2 separate regions of the Homo sapiens genome follow, and region 2 is linked to region 1. Evidence: fine-mapped QTL for protein levels in blood plasma. A gene starts in region 1. The other region holds a variant in brackets. All regions are shown on one strand. Distances are between the middles of the regions.

What was found. A credible set is the group of variants that fine-mapping cannot tell apart. PIP is the posterior inclusion probability: the model's chance that the variant is causal. Protein levels are from the aptamer-based SomaScan assay of Sun 2018.
Region 2: its variant is the best candidate, but not a certain one, in a credible set for the plasma level of the SEMA3C protein (Sun 2018, PIP 0.52).

The regions. Positions count from the first base shown.
Region 1 is chr7:80,914,174-80,923,050 of GRCh38, reverse strand. SEMA3C (semaphorin 3C) reads left to right here and starts at 4,000. Exons shown (of 18, transcript NM_006379.5): 1 at 4,000-4,223; 2 at 6,232-6,372. The coding sequence starts at 6,270. RefSeq lists a silencer at 3,734-3,863 and an enhancer at 4,411-4,480.
Region 2 is chr7:80,936,387-80,945,263 of GRCh38, reverse strand. No RefSeq gene overlaps it. Among named protein-coding and RNA genes, the nearest start is that of SEMA3C, 22 kb to the right of the region's middle. The variant C/G (reference allele first, on the strand shown) is at 3,709.

The DNA of each region.
Region 1 (8,877 bases):
GAAAATGTGAATGATCATAATAACTCTATTACAACCTTTGTCATGCACACATGACATTTTTGTACTAAGGAAGTAAATTCACTAAGGGATTCTTACTACTGAAATTCTTTACTATTCTACTTTTACATGAAATATTGTAATATATAAACATTAGAGGCAATATGCTTTTATTTTGGTTGAGTTGCGAAATATTGCGCTTAACATACTTGATATGTTTAAAGGTGTTTAAGGAAATACTGAGGACTTAAACTTTGAACTTTGTAATAGCTTATACACTCACCTCGTTTAAAATTATAAATGTAAAACAGAGTGAACCATGAAACCTTTCTAGCCAATTTTCCTCTCCAGAGCAAACCACTGTTGCCAGTTTATTTTGTTTAATGTCAAGAACCCTACAATTTGAGAAGCATAGAGTGGTACATATCAACAGAGAAAAAACAGTCAGCAATACAGATTAGCAATAGATTAAGAATGAAAATAGAGATACACTCATCTTATTGAAAAATTAGAAATGATTTGATAGAGGAAATATTAAAGCCTATTTGCTGTGCAGGTAGCAGTTTCACACACAGATTTCTAGACCAGACCTGTTTGACCGGCTTGGTCTCAGAGCTGCTAATGTAACCCAAGGAGACGTAAGGCTGATGTAAATAAAGTAAGTAACCATTGGAAGTTGAGACTTTCCAAAGATACAGTTCAGGAAACTTAAAAGGATGGCATATGGAAGTTGAGTGAAGGAGAAAGAGAGGGAAGTAGAAAAGAGGAGAAAAATGTTAAGCAAAAAAGGTAAGAGGAAGTATTGAAACTTATTGAAAAACCTGAGACATTACGGCAATCACGCTTGAGTTTCTCTTCCTATTCTGATATTTACTACCCATTTGACTTTGGGCAAACCTTCAACGTTCTCTCATTGAAAATTGTAACTTCATTAAAGAATGCTATGCAGATAATAAGCAAAGTACCTCGCAAATACACAATCTATTTTCTATTACAAATATCAGTTTTTATGACTAAATAATAAGACAATTTTTAACCTCTGAATGATTAATATTCTCTGGTTAGGGTAAAGTTTATTTACATGACTCATCTGTATAATAGGGAAAAATCTGTTTTCTTTAAATTTGAAATAAGATAATGTATAGCTGCAGAAACTCCTGGAGAAAAGTATGTAACTCAACATCGGTGCTAGAGTTTTAAGTTAAATAGCATTCCTCAGGACCATCAAAAACATAAAATATTAAAAATATGCCCACTACACCTTGGCAGGCAGAGACACTTCAGTGTGTAAGATACTGCACCATTTCTAAAACGTCTTAATAAAAGTTATCCTAAGTATTTTAGTTTGGCCGCTCGTCTGAAACGTTTTGCTGGGTGCAAACATTGTAATTAGTGCTCTCTAAATTTAGTTGTGCCACTACTCCTGTAGATCCATTTAGTGTCCCCCTTACCGAAAACAGCGTTCTCAATTAGCTGTTGTTTTCCACTTGTAAGGACAGTCAAAGCTGAAGTCTTAAAAAAGTGGTAGTGCCCAGAAATGTTTCTTAGGCAAGTCTTGTTTTGTCAAGGTGTTTTAAGCAGTGTGGGGAAATGTGGGCAGAGATTAATCTTAGGGGCTTCTAGTGCCACTGTTAAAATTCCACTCTGTGGCCTAAGTCTCTGGCAAGCATGAGCACTGTGTCCTTGCGCTTGAATCTATCTTGGCTAAAGCCTATCAGTATTTTTATGATTCATTTTGAGGTGTGGCCAACTGTAAACGTCTCAGAGCTAAGCAAATACCATTAAATCCCAGGAGCACATTGAAAAGAGGTTTATTTGAGCAATATTGAGGGAATTTCGGCACAAATTTCATGGGCTGTGATTAAATCTAAGCTATTTGTCAAGGCCTCCAAACCCCTGAATGTGTAACAGATTGAGCTAATTCATTGGTGTTTGTAAATTGAGTTTGGAATTAAGCTCCTTTGTAAATACACCGTTTGAGATGCATTTCATCTTGCAACTCTTTATCGTGGTTTTCTCAAACTTAAAATGTATAAACGAATTCCATCTTACGTGAATTTGCTGATCAATTTCTAACAGCTCCACATTTCTAAATTAATTTAATCCACACACTCATCTTTCTAATGATTTATTCTTCTCCCTGCTTAATATATAAATGCCGAATGAGATATCAGAAGGAGGATAATAGTGGAGAGTATATAACCTGGATCTTACTCAGTTTCAGAAGTATTTCAGAGAAGCACGCACAGTGCTTATTCACATTGACATCTGGATTTTAATATTGTCAGTTTTTGGGGGGTTAAATTCCTTATTACAAATTTATGTCAAGGATCTTCTCACGCATCATCACAAAAAATAATTTTAACTGTTGTTACTATATTAATTTTTTGACGTTTGGAGATAATATTAGCCCTGGAATAGTATTTTTGAACTCATAAATTTGCATTATTTGACTTGATCCTTCGTTCCTTGACTATGCAGCGTGAGTCTGAGACACGTGTATGTTTACTGAACACAAGAGGTGGGCCCCAGACACATGAAAGATGTGTCTCACTCACCTCTTCCTCCTACCTGAGATTTCATTCAACTTTCCCACTGAACAATGATTTTGCACCCCCAGAGGGGTTTTCTATGATACAGTTTATAAGAATTTAATGATTGTTTCATTATGTGAATTGTCAGGTATAAGGTGGAGATATTACACTCCACGTTCCTTCTGTAGAGTGACATCTGCTGGGCTGTGCCCCACAGTGATTTTAAGCAAGTGCCTGCTTGTTTTATGGGGATCAAAGCTCATTTCTCCCGATGTTTAAACATCTAGTTTATTGTGGTCCGGAGAAGTAATTTTCACTTAAACATCAAAGTCAGTTCCAGAGTTTAACGAGTGTACCTGAAAGTAATGCTGGAAAAATACCTCTGATGTATTTCTGTAGATGTGTGGTTATGGCAATCTGTTGGCATAACTCAGAACAGCCTCTCCACATAGAATTGTCAAATAATTTCTTCGTGTAATTATGTTTGGGAGTATGGTTGGGGACAACGTACTGGATATGAGTCAACGTGGAGGGGTCAACAGAATTACTGCTTTCAGGGCATTAAGGAAACTCAATAGGAAACAATACCCATTAAAAGGATACACTTGTGCAACAAGATTGTCGTTTATCTTGACCTGTTTTAGAAAACACGCAACAGAGGCCCGGCGCGGTGGCTCTCGGCACTTTGGGCGGCTGAGGCGGGCGGACCATTAGGTCAAGAGATCCAGACCATCCTGGCCCTGTCTCTACTAAAAATACAAAAATTAGCTGGGCGTGGTGGTGGGAGCCTGTAGTCCCAGCTATTCAGGAGGCTGAGGCAGGAGAATCGCTTGAACCCGGGAGGCGGAGGTTGCAGTGAGCCATGATCACACCACTGCACTGCACTCCAGCCTGGCGACAGAGTGAGATTCCCTCTCCAAAAACAAAACAAAAAACAAAAAACAAAAAACAAAAAAAAAACGCAGCAGAATAAGGACAAAACTCACGTCCTTTTAAAAACGCATCTCTTTGCCTTAAAAGGCTGCAGTGATCCTTCCCTGGCAAAAATAAAAAACCACAACTGCTTTGCACTTTGATATTTACGGCCAGGCAAAGCCTGTGTAAGTCTTCGAGAGCCGCCGGCAACAAAAACCGTGGAGCGCACCCAGCAAGTTGCTCACTCCGCCGCGGACTGCGAAAGGAGCAGGGTTGCGGAGCTAGGGCTCCAGCCTGCGGCCGCGCATTCTTGCGTCTGGCCAGCCGCGAGCTCTAAGGGTCGGCCCCGCCCGGTCCGCCCCCGCGGCTCCCTGCCAGGCTCTCGCGGGCGCGCTCGGGGTGGGGCCTCGCGGCTGGCGGAGATGCGGCCGGGGCTGCGCGGTGGTGATGCGAGCCTGCAGGGCGGCGCGCCGGGGCAGCCGGAGCCGCGCGCCGCGGCGCTGTAATCGGACACCAAGAGCGCTCGCCCCCGGCCTCCGGCCACTTTCCATTCACTCCGAGGTGCTTGATTGAGCGACGCGGAGAAGAGCTCCGGGTGCCGCGGCACTGCAGCGCTGAGATTCCTTTACAAAGAAACTCAGAGGACCGGGAAGAAAGAATTTCACCTTTGCGACGTGCTAGAAAATAAGGTCGTCTGGGAAAAGGACTGGAGACACAAGCGCATCCAACCCCGGTAGCAAACTGATGACTTTTCCGTGCTGATTTCTTTCAACCTCGGTAAGCTAAATTGGTCATTTTCCGCATTACAGATTTAGCAAAGTATAACTTTTTTGGCCTGTATATTGATTTTTCATACATTGGTATGCTCAAGCCTGGACATTTTCTTAAGAACACACGCGGTTTGTCAGGGAAGCTTTCCCCTTGCTGAGAGCCCTGCTCGAGTTGTTTCTTTAGGCGGTGACACCTGCGGAGAGTTTCAAGTTGAGTATTACAGTGCCTTCAAAGGCAAAATTGCTCCAGAGGAGATAAGAGAATTCTTTTCTTAATGTGTTGTTAGTTTGCGATCAGCAGAAGTGAAAACACCAAGAGGAACGTCTGTGTCTGAGTTAAAGGGAAGAAGTTGTAAGATACTGTTGGGGAGGCGGGGGTGTATTTAAGACACTTGGCTTTCAGTCTTTCACTCCTCATCACTAGGTGGGATGTAAATCAAATTGCCCTGTAGACTATCTTCGTTTCACCTGCCATTGTATCACCAGTATTCTTTGCAATTGGTTGTATATGTACTTTTGGGAGAAACATATAAGGTAAGATACCAATATGTAAAAAAAATGTGTAAATAATATCAACTTGCTCAGTAAACATAACAAAGGTTAGGCATATTAATAGTTTTTTTCTTTTGGCTTTAACTATGAAGTCAACAGAACCAAGGGGTAAATTACTGAGGGAAAGTCACCCATAAAATCAGTTTCTTTCTAAGTTAATTTAGGGATGACAGGGTGAAGAGGTTGTGGAAGCAGGAAGAAACTGTTTCTTTTGAAAATTACCAACACAAACATCTCTAGAGTTTCCTCCATCTGTGTGGTAAAAGAAGCGTACAATTTCATTTCTAACTCTCATAACATATGCACCACCTAGGAAATCTACTTACAATTTTTGTTTAAAATTGCATATTCCATTTAATTCTTTTTATTCTGTATTAATGAAGCTGTCTTTTTCAGTTGTTAGTGGTTCTTACAAAGAATTTAATAATTTTGACTATGAAATTTTAATTTGAAAAGCCAAATAATGAAGATCAGCATTGTTGTAACCTGTAAAAATAAATTTCTTTACTGGACTCTTGGGTCACTTTATTGTGTAATTATGGTAGAAGCAAAATGATTGTGTTTCTTTAATGGTCCTGAGTTTATTTTACATGATGTAGCCACTAGAGCTCCTGTAGGTTTATGGTAACACATTATCTGGTCTTCCTTGGGATTCAGATATTAGTTAATAGCATGTACCAATTTTATATCTATAGTTTGAAGCAGTGACACCTGTCTCTTTGATTTATCTTTGGGAATTTTGACAGCCCACATTCTGGTTGATTTATTTAAAATATGCATTGGTGGATACATGGCTCACTGGATTGCTCACCACTAGGTCATTGGTTTGAATTTGGCACTAGTCCATGGTTACTTCAACTGCATCATTTAACAACTGCCTGTTGGTCATCTGGATAAAATGGCAGATAACTGATTCCAGTGACTTCAGTGATCCAGGATTGAGCACACATAGATTTATGTAAGGAAACACCACTTCCAGAGACAATTACTCCAAAAGAGCTAATGACTATTGAAGTGAGTAGGTACACATGAATGCTCATGTGAGATTTTGCTGCTGCTGTTACGTTAGTGGGGGGAAAGAGTTCTCATCCAGTAATATTCTTTTAGCTCAATTCTATTCAAGTCTTTTTAATGTAATGGATTTCTAGAGAGAAGATCCGTTAAAATATTGGGCTTTCCTTTGGGTATCAGTGTTTTTCTTCACTGCTTTGTTCTGTTTTGATGGTAGCATCAATTTGCTGGAAGATGAAAGTTTCTCTTGTTGCAAAGACTTCCAGACACAAATGAATCAAATCCACATTTTCACATCTGAGAAGCAAAGACACAGCACCTCCTACTGTTTGCATTACTGTAAAAGTTCAGATGGTTCTTTTGTGAATAGGGTGTTTTGTCTAGATTGCTGTTTTTTCCTACTCCTAAAATGTGAAATGAGATATAACAAACATGTTGTCTCTCTCTTAAAGGTATTTTCCCTTGGATATTAACTTGCATATCTGAAGAAATGGCATTCCGGACAATTTGCGTGTTGGTTGGAGTATTTATTTGTTCTATCTGTGTGAAAGGATCTTCCCAGCCCCAAGCAAGAGTTTATTTAACATTTGATGGTAAGAGAGTTGATAAACACTCTGGGAAAAATGTTATTTTAAGTTTTGTTATCTTCCTTATCCAGATTCAGAAATTAAGAGTATAAATATTACTGGATATTAATTTTAAAAATATTTACTGGGCTGCGTTTTGGAGGACAATAGCTATTTTAAATGATTGGTTAATAGACAAAGATCCTCTGTTGGATTTGAGGTATTTATGAAAATGCTTATAATATATGCTGCTTTTTGTAAAATAATTCTTCTGTGCTTGCCTGTGTACTCACAGAGGAGATGGGCACGAGCTCAAAGCCTAGCATCTTTGATCTTACTGTTCACCTGGTAATGTTAAGAAATTGCCCCTTTGTGCTAATCCTCAGCAGCAGAGAGAGCTATGCAGGTTCAATTACTAAAAAATTCTCCCAATTAATTTTTTGGGCATTAGTCTCAAAACTGGTTACTCCGTGTGTTGTTCTAATGGTGTTTCTTCTTTTTCCACAAGGATTTCCTGAGATTGGCATAGTCCCCTAATTAATTGAAAAGGACCTAAAAGAATAATTGGAAATATGCTTTTGATGGTTGTTGTATACAAATGTTCTCAGAAGCTTAGGGAAATGGGTGTGATTTCAGATTTTCACATACATAAAAGGTGCAAGGTCTTCTGAGGGAATGGTTTGCATGAGCTTTAATGTATATAGTTCAAAGGACTTACAGATGAATGAATTTGGTTAGTCAAGTAACCCATACTAATTGGACAGATGGAGCAAGACATGGATGAGGAACACCATCCTGCCAATCAAGGTCATTTATAATTTTATTACTTCTTTCAACTCTGCATAAACTTTAGTGTCATTGCAAGTACTTTTTCTTTCATTTGATAAACAATATATTCTCAGACCTTTCTATAGCAGAGTGTCTCTGAAACTTTGTCTCAAATTCCTTTTTTTTTTTTTTTTTTTGAGACAGTGTCTCACGCTGTCACCAGGTTGGAGTGCAGTGACACGATCTCGGCTCACTGCAGTCTCCACCTCCCAGGTTCAAGCCATTCTCCTTCCTCAGCCTACCCAGTAGCTGGGATTACAGGTGCGTGCCACCACACCGAGCTAATTTTTGTATTTTTAGTAGAGACGGAGTTTCACCATGTTGGCCAGGATGGTCTCGATCTCCTGACCTTGTGATCTGCCCGCCTCCGCCTCCCGAGGTGAGCCACCACGCCTGGCCTCAAATTTCAAATAGCAGAATGACTGACACTTGCCAGTCAAATGGCTGTCCTTTTTTTCTTTTTAAGTCACCAGTGCTTTCCCCAAGGTTGTCATAAGCACCGAAGGAGCCATATTTGGAACTTAGAATGTGTGAGCTTCTAATTGCTTCCTTAGCCTCCATGCAAGGCATTTCCCCTTAAAACCCATAGCTATGCAGTTAAGTTGTGAAGAATGGAAAAACAGACCCTTTGAGGTATCCTTTTTAGCCCCTTAATTACTAAAGCATCTTACAGACTACCCACACTTTTCCTCCCAAGTTAGAACTATGAAATACGTTTTCAAATAAAAGAGAAAGGGCATTAAGAAGTAGTGCAATTTCCCCTCTATTTTCTATATTTCTCCTAGTATATATAGAGATGGAGTGACCTAATAGATTAGATGTCTCTACCTGCTTTCTTTTCCATTACATGAAAATTAATCCAAACTAATGTAAATATCAACAAAAAGTGTGTTACTAGAGATAATGAACCAATTCTGTATTTGAAAAAGCAATTGCAATTCATATTTTACAGAAGGAAATTACATAGTATAATCTTTTAGAACCAGACTTCAGAACTGTGTAAGACAGTGACAGCTATGCTATACAGTGACTAGAAGTAATGATGGGATTTAAAATAATATATGCCTAATATTTTAAATGCACTCAAACTTAAAACAGATTCTTGCAGAATAAGACTTGCCTTGATTTGTAACTTATGTAGAATATGACATGAGTTGTTGATCTCAAAGTTCTATAATTCCTGATATTTTGTTCTTCTCAGGTGTATTACTGGTACTCTTAGGAAGTGAGAGAAAAACAGAGCAAATAATCAGAGAGATAGAAAATCACTTGTTTTGAATACTGTTTAAAAGAGATGTATCAACAGTGAGAATACATCTAATAAAATTGCACGATTGGTAACTCAATAATTTTAAACATTCCTACAATGAACTACATAGACAAGTTATAGGGAAAGTATCAGGCGAAAACAGTTGTCAAAATGTACAAATTTTAAACCTTGGTTCAATACAGTTTTCTTAGGAGATTTCACAGTGTACCTGCTTGAAATGCCTGTTCAAATTTATTATTATTTAAAGTTTCTCATTAGTCAAATGATGACTCATTGACTATTGTACCAAGTAGGTTTTTAAGTTTCCTCCAAAGTAGTTTATTCTCAACATCAAAATATAGAGCTTTGTATGGGGTTAATGTATTTAAGAGTATATATTTAAATACATGTGGCATATACTTCTAGTTCGTATTTCTAAAGTTCTATTACTGTTT
Region 2 (8,877 bases), 22 kb before region 1:
CTACCTACTACAATATTTTACACAGAGAACGTCATAAATAAACATTTGTTAAAGAAATAATAAATAGGCCGGGCGCAGTGGCTCATGCCTGTAATCCCAGCACTTTAGGAGGCCAAGGTGGGAGGATCATGAGGTCAGGAGATGGAGACCATCCTGGCTAACACGGTGAAACCCCGTCTCTACTAAAAATACAAAAAATTAGCCGGGCGTGGTGGCGGGCGCCTGTAGTCCCAGCTGCTCGTGAGGCTGAGGCAGGAGAATGGCATGAACCCGGGAGGCGGAGCTTGCAGTGAGCCGAGATTGCGCCACTGCACTCCAGCCTGGGTGACAGAGCGAGACTCCATCTCAAATAAATACATACATACATACATACATACGTACATAAGTACATACCAACATGCTGCTTAATGTGTTACCCCTTCTAACAGAATTTGCTTTATTAGGAGAATGACTCAAGTGGCTTTGTTTTCTTCTAAAATTATATCCATAATCTACATCCTTTAATCGCCTGATGGTTCTGAGTCCTTTTTGAACTCTGCACTAAGTATAATTAATAGCCAGGATATCCCCAGGTGGGTCTGCGACTGTCATCGCATCTCAGCAGACTGAAAAAGTGATGCCCATTTGGTAAGCTGGGGTAGCAGGACATGTTTCTCTTTAATACTCTAGCCAATACTTAACTAGCAGTTGTAAGGTCCTGTAATGCTCTTTCTTAAGTGTCCATTCTGTTTCCTCCTTGATGCCAATTTGCTTAGGGTCCTCAATGACTTTTGCTTACACTTTACATTCAATGTTAACAAAATAAATAAATTATGATTTTTGTCTTCAAAGAGCTCAGAGTTCAGTGGACTATACAAAACAAGTAAAATAAAAATATCTTCATAGTCCCCATTCAGACAAATCCTGCAACTGAGAAAAAGTGGCAGTGCGTGAGAGAAAGTTATACTAGGTAAAGGGAAGAGCAAATGCAAAGACATAGATGCTTGAGAGGGAGCCACGTGTTGAGAACAATGAGTGATTTAGAGCCCATCGAGACTGGATCCCATAATGAGACAGGCAGAGGAAGGGACTGGTTAAGGTCCCATTGGAAAGCCATTTTACCATGGTAAGTTTACCTTTTATCCTCTGTAAAATAGGGAACTGTGCAAGATTTAAATAGGGAAGTGGAATACTCAGATTGTTCAGATTGGTTTTTTTTTTTTGAAAAGAAACATTGTCGGTATTTTGAAGCATGAACTAAATTAAGGATTAAGGATTAATTAACTTTTCTTGAATCTGCAAGCAAATTTGTCCATTACTGTTCTTTTGTTTTGGTCCAGAAGGGACTATTAATAAAATACGGACTAAAAGGAGAGTTGCTTCTGCATTCTCTACATTGACTGCCTCTACCATCTCTTTATTATATTTATTAACTTGTTATTTTTCTAAGATGCCTGTTATTTCAAATTGCCAGCAGCAATTTTCTTTTGGAGGCTATCCTGGGACTAAAAAAGAATATTCGTTCAAAGGATATGATACAGTATTGTAGAACCTAATTAACACATTTCATATATGAATCATTATGTTATTTATTACATCAGCAATTGACCACAGTTAGTAGAGCAAATAGATTTTAACTTTTTCACCAATTTTTGCAACCCATGGCCACCTAGATACATGTCTCAAAAGGAAATCTCTGCAGAAAGTGTTTATCCAACAGCGATGTTTGCCATATGTGAAGATAAGATCTGGTCATGAGTCCAGGAGCATCAACCCAGTGGGTAGCAGGTAAAAGGTTGGAAGGAAGCAGATTCTGTAGCATTGGGACATTGACAGTGGGGAGCACATGGAGTGCTTGGATCAAAGAGACATTTTAGAACAGTAGTGTGGCAACTTGATGAAGATAATTAGATAATAGTGATATGAAGCAGTTTTCTTGAATCTGCAAGAAAATTTGTCCATTACTGTTCTTTTGTTTTGGTCCAGAAAGGGTTATTAATAAATAGGGACTAAAAGAAGAGTTGCTTCTGCGTTCTCTACATTTGACTGCCTCTACCGTCTGTTACTTTTTTTTTTTTTTGAGACAGAGTCTCGCTCTGGCTAATTTTTTATATTTTTTTAGTAGAGACAGGGTTTCACAGCGTTAGCCAGGATGGTCTCGATCTCCTGACCTCGTGATCTGCCCGCCTCGGCCTCTCAAAGTGCTGGGATTACAGGCGTGAGCCACGGCGCCCGGTCAACTTGTTACTTTTTTTTAGATGGTTGTCTTTTTAAATTGCCAGCAGCAATTTTCTTTTGGAGGCTATTCTGGGACAAATAGAAAATACTGGTTGAAAGGAAATGATACAGTATATGTAGAACCTAACTAACGCATTTCATATATGAATCATTATGTTATTTAATCAGCAAATGTTTGCTCAGTAACTATTTGAATCATTTTGTTTAACTATTAGCATCAGCAAAGATTTGTTCACTGACTCTCTATTACCTAGGATATACCCAGTATTCCAAAAGGGAAAAAAGTAGCATAGCCTCTCCTCTTGAAAACTGTATTTTCCATAATTTATTCAAGCAAAATTGACTACTTAGACACTATCCCTTTGAAGTAGCCCTCCCCAAGCTAACCTATGAACCACTATTTGCTCATAGGAAGGAAGTGGTTCTATCTAAGGCTAAGAGCCAAGAATTTTGCATTCCATTCCATTCATTGCTTCTGTTACTGATTTATTAAGTAATATTAAGTAGCAATTCTGCAGACTTTTCTCTTTGGCCTACTGAGCATGGCAATGCACTGGAAATTCCACTAATGTGGGCACAGCTTGGGGCACGACAAAGAAATAGGTGGAGACTAGAAACACATCTCTGACATGTCTTAGGAATGTCCCTAGGGATATTTCATTACTGAGTAGCTGAGCAGAGACATGACTCAGCCAGAGTTCCTGCAACTGGCTGTCTGGGGCAGCTATGAGAATGCTGGCAGGAGTTGCTGACTAGCCAGTGTTTGGTGAAGATGAAAAACAGCCTTTTAGTTAGAACTGAAACTTCTAAATAGCAATCTGATTGTACAAACTGACTTGAGTTGTTTGTTAGTACTAACATATTAAGAGGGGAATAAATTTGCTATCTGTCTGCAATAGCTTTCTCAAATATGTCAATGCATTTGAAGCACCTTGCGAAGAATTATTATTTAATCAGTGGACATTAGAACTCCTATTTTGATGGATTCTTTAGAAAAATACCTTGATTTTTGCAGTTGAAAAGTGAGAAAGGTTCTGTTGACAGAGAACTAAGAAATATGTAAACTTGTTTCTTAAGAAACAAACACTAAATTGAAGATGGAAAAAAGGGGAAAGAAAAGAGATGGAAGGAAGGTGACCAAGGAATAGAGCAGAAGAATGAAAGAGTGGATGAAAATCTATAGAAAAGCAATGCCTAATAAATAGCATTTATATTAGTGGTGCAAATTTTCCCTCCATGTGATAATATATACAGATAGATATATATTTTACATTGGGATTTTGATTATTTAATATTTATTTTTAGATTGTGTTCACTATCTGTGATATAAAGAAATTCAAAAACTTCTTTCCTGGTTATGAAACATTGTGTTACTCATTGCCTTTTTTTCAAAAACAGAAACTGGACAATTAAGGCTAAGTGCAATCACTCTGTTTAAATTTATTGGGCAATAGTTGCATGATCTTCAGTTGTGGAATTTGTGTGTCAAGG[C/G]TCATATGACAATTCCTTTATGGCACTGAAATAAGACTGTACTTGTCTTTGCTTTGTCCTTTCGGCCTGCCCTTGGTGAACTCCTTATTGCAATGAATTCGTATTTCTGAATCTAAAGATGACTAGCTTCTAGCTGCTAAGTTAAATTTAAACCTCCGTGAGGACACCAGCTGTCCCTAAGTGAGATAATTTGCTATTTTCCTCGGGCCAAAAATTCCAGTTTGGGGTAAGACAGGGCCTTGAAATGCACATTCCCTAAGAGGTTACTTTTGATCCAGAGATCTCTTAAAGTGTTAATGAATTTCCACACACATGAGCACCCTGCATTTTTTTCCTTTTGGGTTAAAAACCGAAGAGGTCTATAAGGAGACTGTCTCAGAACTTTGGTTCCCAGAACCATTATTTATATTCAGCTTCAGTGTTCCTTATTTATTAGCTGGGACCTAGCAGAGCAGTTACAGCAACAGAAAACAGCAGATGGCAAATTTCATGGTGGCGATAACACAATAACTGAGAAGTATGTGGTGAGCAATATGGGAGCTCTTCACAAATCCCTTATTATCCTTTTTTGTTATTTCTGTGTGTGGAGGGAGGGATGTTAAATGTTTCGTGTATATTCTCTCTCCTATCCTATAACAATGACACAAGAGTGTATGATGCTATGAAAACAGCTCTCTTGCCTCTAGTTGGGGCAACTCTAAGGTGTGACACACACTCCAGAGCTCCCTGAAAAGTCAGGCTAAAGTTCTTCTCTACAGGATGCATGCCTCTGCACCTGCACTATTGCTTGGCTTACTTCCCTTCTTTCTTCTGCTTTTTCCAACTCCCTAACCTGCATGCCCTAGAGGAATTTCCTTAATAAATTGGTTACACATACATCCTTGGCTCAGGGTCAGCTTGTACTAAACCTACAACAAAGGGAGGGGTGAGTAAAATGAGGAGACAGGGAAAAGATGAATCTCCAAGAGAGATAAAAATGAAAGGTTACTGGAAGGCAGGATGGAGCAAAGAAATCCTTAAAGAAAGGAGGGGAAATAGGGTAAAGGGGGAATCAAGAATTGAGATACTATTGTCTGGCACCATAGTATATGGGACCTTTATTTAGGGGTCCTGAAACATAGTGCTGAAACACAAGGCCCTGACTTCATACTGACTGAGGATAAAATTCCAACTTTTCTACCTCACAAGTGTATAGCCTTAGGCAAAGTAATTTACTCTTTAAGCCTCTGATTTTCCATCTATAAAATGAGTCTGAGATTTTAACCCTTAGAAATACCTTTAAATATGGAAAGAACCTTACACCTAAAGGTATTTATTGCAGCATAATTTAGAGATGTGGTCCCCAACTGGGGGTGATTTTGTTCCCTAATGGACATTTGGCCATATCTAGAGACATTTTTTGTTTTCACAGCTCAGGGATGGGAAGTTACTAGCAGCTAGTGCATAAAGACTAGAAATGTTGGCCGGGCGCGGCGGCTCACGCCTGTAATCCCAGCACTTTGGGAGGCCGAGGTGGGCGGATCACGAGGTCAGGAGATTGGGACCATCCTGGCTAACACGGTGAAACCCCGTCTCTACTAAAAATACAAAAAAAAAAAAATTAGCCTGGCGTGGTGGCGGGTGCCTGTAGTCCCAGCTACTCGGGAGGCTGAGGCAGGAGAATGGCGTGAACCCGGGAGGCGGAGCTTGCAGTGAGCCGAGATCGGCCCACTGCACTCGAGCCTGGGCGACAGTGCGAGACTCTGTCTCGAAAAAAAAAAAAAAAGACTAGAAATGTTGCTATACAACCCACAGTGCACAGAATAGTCTCACACCCCCCTTCAACAACAAAAACGTTTTGGACCAACATGTCAGTAGTGCACAGTTGAGAAACTTTAACGTAGAGTAACAAAAAGTTGAAAGCAAATATTTTAAAAATTTAGAAATAGAGCAAGATTAAATAAATTATAATGCATCCCCTGAACTAAATAATATGCTATAACTGAAAAAATTATTTTTTTTTAAATTGTTGACACCTATGATAAGATGATAACAAAGTAGAAAATGCTGGACAGTCTGTATGTAAATTGTGTAAATCAATTAATTAATTCAAGTCATACTTTTCAAGAGCTAATCCATGCCAGGTATTGGACTAATGGATATTATAGTGGTAAAGGAAACACATTTATGAAATTTGCATTCTAGTAGAGAGAAAGGACAGTAGAAGATAGATAGATAGATAGATAGATAGATAGATAGATAATAGGTAATATAGATAGATGATGAATAAAAAAATGAACAAGAAACAACTCTCTGAAGAACTGATATGTCAGCTGCGATCTCAATTTGTAGAAGGTGTGAATCATGGCAGGATGGAAGGCAGAGCATTCCTAGATAGACTCGTTAGGTTGAAGACTCTAAAGTGAGAACAAGCATGGCAGTTTTGAAGAACAGTAGTGTGAAAAGCCAGAGAAAATTATGGTTAACAATACAAGCTATTGTGGAGAAAGACAGACTTGAATTTGAATCCTCGCTCTGTGGGATATGAAGTGAAATGTTCACTCTTTCAGAAACTTTTTCTTAACATTGTTTCACGGTGTATAATTGGGCATAAGAAAACTTCTCAGGATTATTGTGAAAATGAAATTAGGTAATATATGTAAAGTGCCAAGCATCTTTTACATGATAAGCACTCTATAGTTTGAATTTAATGAAAAAGTCAAGATTAAAAAATATATATGGTATACAAACGGGAATAAAAAAGTCATACAGAGATATATATATGTGTAATATATGTATATTACATAGGTACACACATATACATATGTAATATACATAACATATGTAATATACATAATGTAATTATGTATGTAATTACATATACATAACATATGTAATTTATATGTAATATACATATGCCTATGTAATATACATAACATACACAGTATTAGGGTACAGATGCATTAGATTAGCTAATCATATACATATGCCTATGTAATATACATTACATACACAGTATTAGGGTACAGATGCATTAGATTAGCTAGCCTCCTAGATGCTTCTCATTCTATAATGCCAGGACTTCACAAATTCCTGTACAATGATAAATGACAATAGCTTTTGCTACATGTACTCATTCATATCAGTTCTCTGAACCAATGAAGAATGGCAATCTGATTCTCTAAGGTATAGAAGTGTGGTGGACATAAAGTAACAACTGAAAGAGCCCTGGTCTGGTGACCAACAGGTACCGGTTCTCTTTGAGATTCTGCTGCCTATTAATTTTGATTCCCTAACAATCACCAACTATTCTGAGCCTCAGTTTCTATAGGTATAATGAATAAATTAGACAAAATCATCTTAAAGATCCTTTCTAATTCTAGAATTCTAAATATTGCAGATTATTTAGAGATAAAAGGTGGTTTTACCAGATTTTAGTTTAATCAAGTAGAAAACTGTTTTAGAGAAGATAATACTGGTTCCTCTGAGAAGAAAAATTAAAGAAATCTTTTGGTTTAAGGAAAGTATCTATTTATAATTTGTATAAAATTACATTAATTATAACCAAAATACATGATTATAAATTATCTTCTTTAATGTATTTGCTTTTAATTTTTTATGTTACATGCAGAAATAAAGATGGCTAGGTTTTTACAATAAGTAGTTCCAACAGACCAGTTAGTCGTATAAGGAAATTCTATAAATACCTTCAGTGGAGAAAGACAAGGTGTCCTAGACATCACTGAAATGACCATACATTAGACAGAGGCCATTCCTGACATTGGAAATGGCATCATTTTGAGTGTTAAGCTCAAAAGCACTGATCCAAACTTGGCTTACCCAATTTTTTAGTCTATAATTAAAAATAACTACCTAATCATGTTATTAATACATGAGTTAGAGCGATTTACAAATATTGTTTTATCACATAACAAAAGGAATAAAAGGCAAGTGAGTAATGTACCAGGTTTGTTTCACACAACTTAAGTGAATAAAGAACATACGCCTAATGGTTTATGGAAAGTCACACACAAATAAGATAAGGTCAGGGTCAGGATCCACTTAAGATCCATTAAAATGTCATTGAAGTCAACGATCCACTCCATATGAAAAGGTAATTATACTGTCTGTTGATAAAAACAATCCTTACAAGAAGATGTAGTGACTTACAAGAGGATGAAGACTCATAGTGTTCAAGACTCCTGAATGCATAAAAATTTATAAGAAAATGTTTAATATGTATATTATTTATTATATATTATTAAGTAAAAACATATAATATATAATAAAGCTCATAAGTGGCATTAAATGGGAAAAATCATGAGGGCAAATTCCAAAATATTCTTTTTCATCCCTAGACCAAAACAATTTCTGCAAATATTTTATAGAATGCCTTGAAAATGCCCTCTATAAAATATCTAAAAATATAAAATACGTAATATTGTTATCTGATTATACTAATGAGAGGTTATTTAAAATTTTGAAAGACAATGGCTGGATGCGGTGGCTCACGCCTCTAATCCCAGCACATTGGGAAGCCGAGGCAGGCGGATCACGAGGTCAGGAGTTCGAGACCAGCCTGATCAGCATGGTGAAACCCCATCTGTACTAAAAATACAAAAAATTAGCCAGGCATGGTGGTGCATGACTGTGGTCCCAGCTGCTCGAGAGGCTGCGGCAGGAGAATTGCTTGAACCTGGCAGGCAGAGGTTGCAGTGAGCCGAGATCGCGCTACTGAGCTCCAGCCTGGGCGACAGAGTGAGACTCTATCTCAAAAAAAAAAAAAAAAAAAATTGAGGGACAAACTTTAACACACGGTTTATGTATAATTTTTTTTCTTTAATTCTACAGATGAGAAATTAAGGCCAGAAGTTAAATGAGGGAAGATAGCCAGTCTTTTCCATATCACATATAATGTATTTCGTTTTTAGAATTGTCTAGTTTCTCACATGTAGTGAATTCTTAGCCCAGCCAGAGTCTAATAAGCGTGGTCTTTGGGGAGCAATTATATGAGCATTATGTTTTTCCTGGTGAGCAAATCTTCCCAATGCAAAACAAAATGTTTACCAATGTTGAGGTGGGATAGAGCAACAGTAATTTCAAACAAAATACAGTAGGGAGGAGGGCAGTGGGAATCAAGTGCTAATTGAAGGGGAGAAGGGAAGGCTTTGTTCAAAATAGTGATGGAAC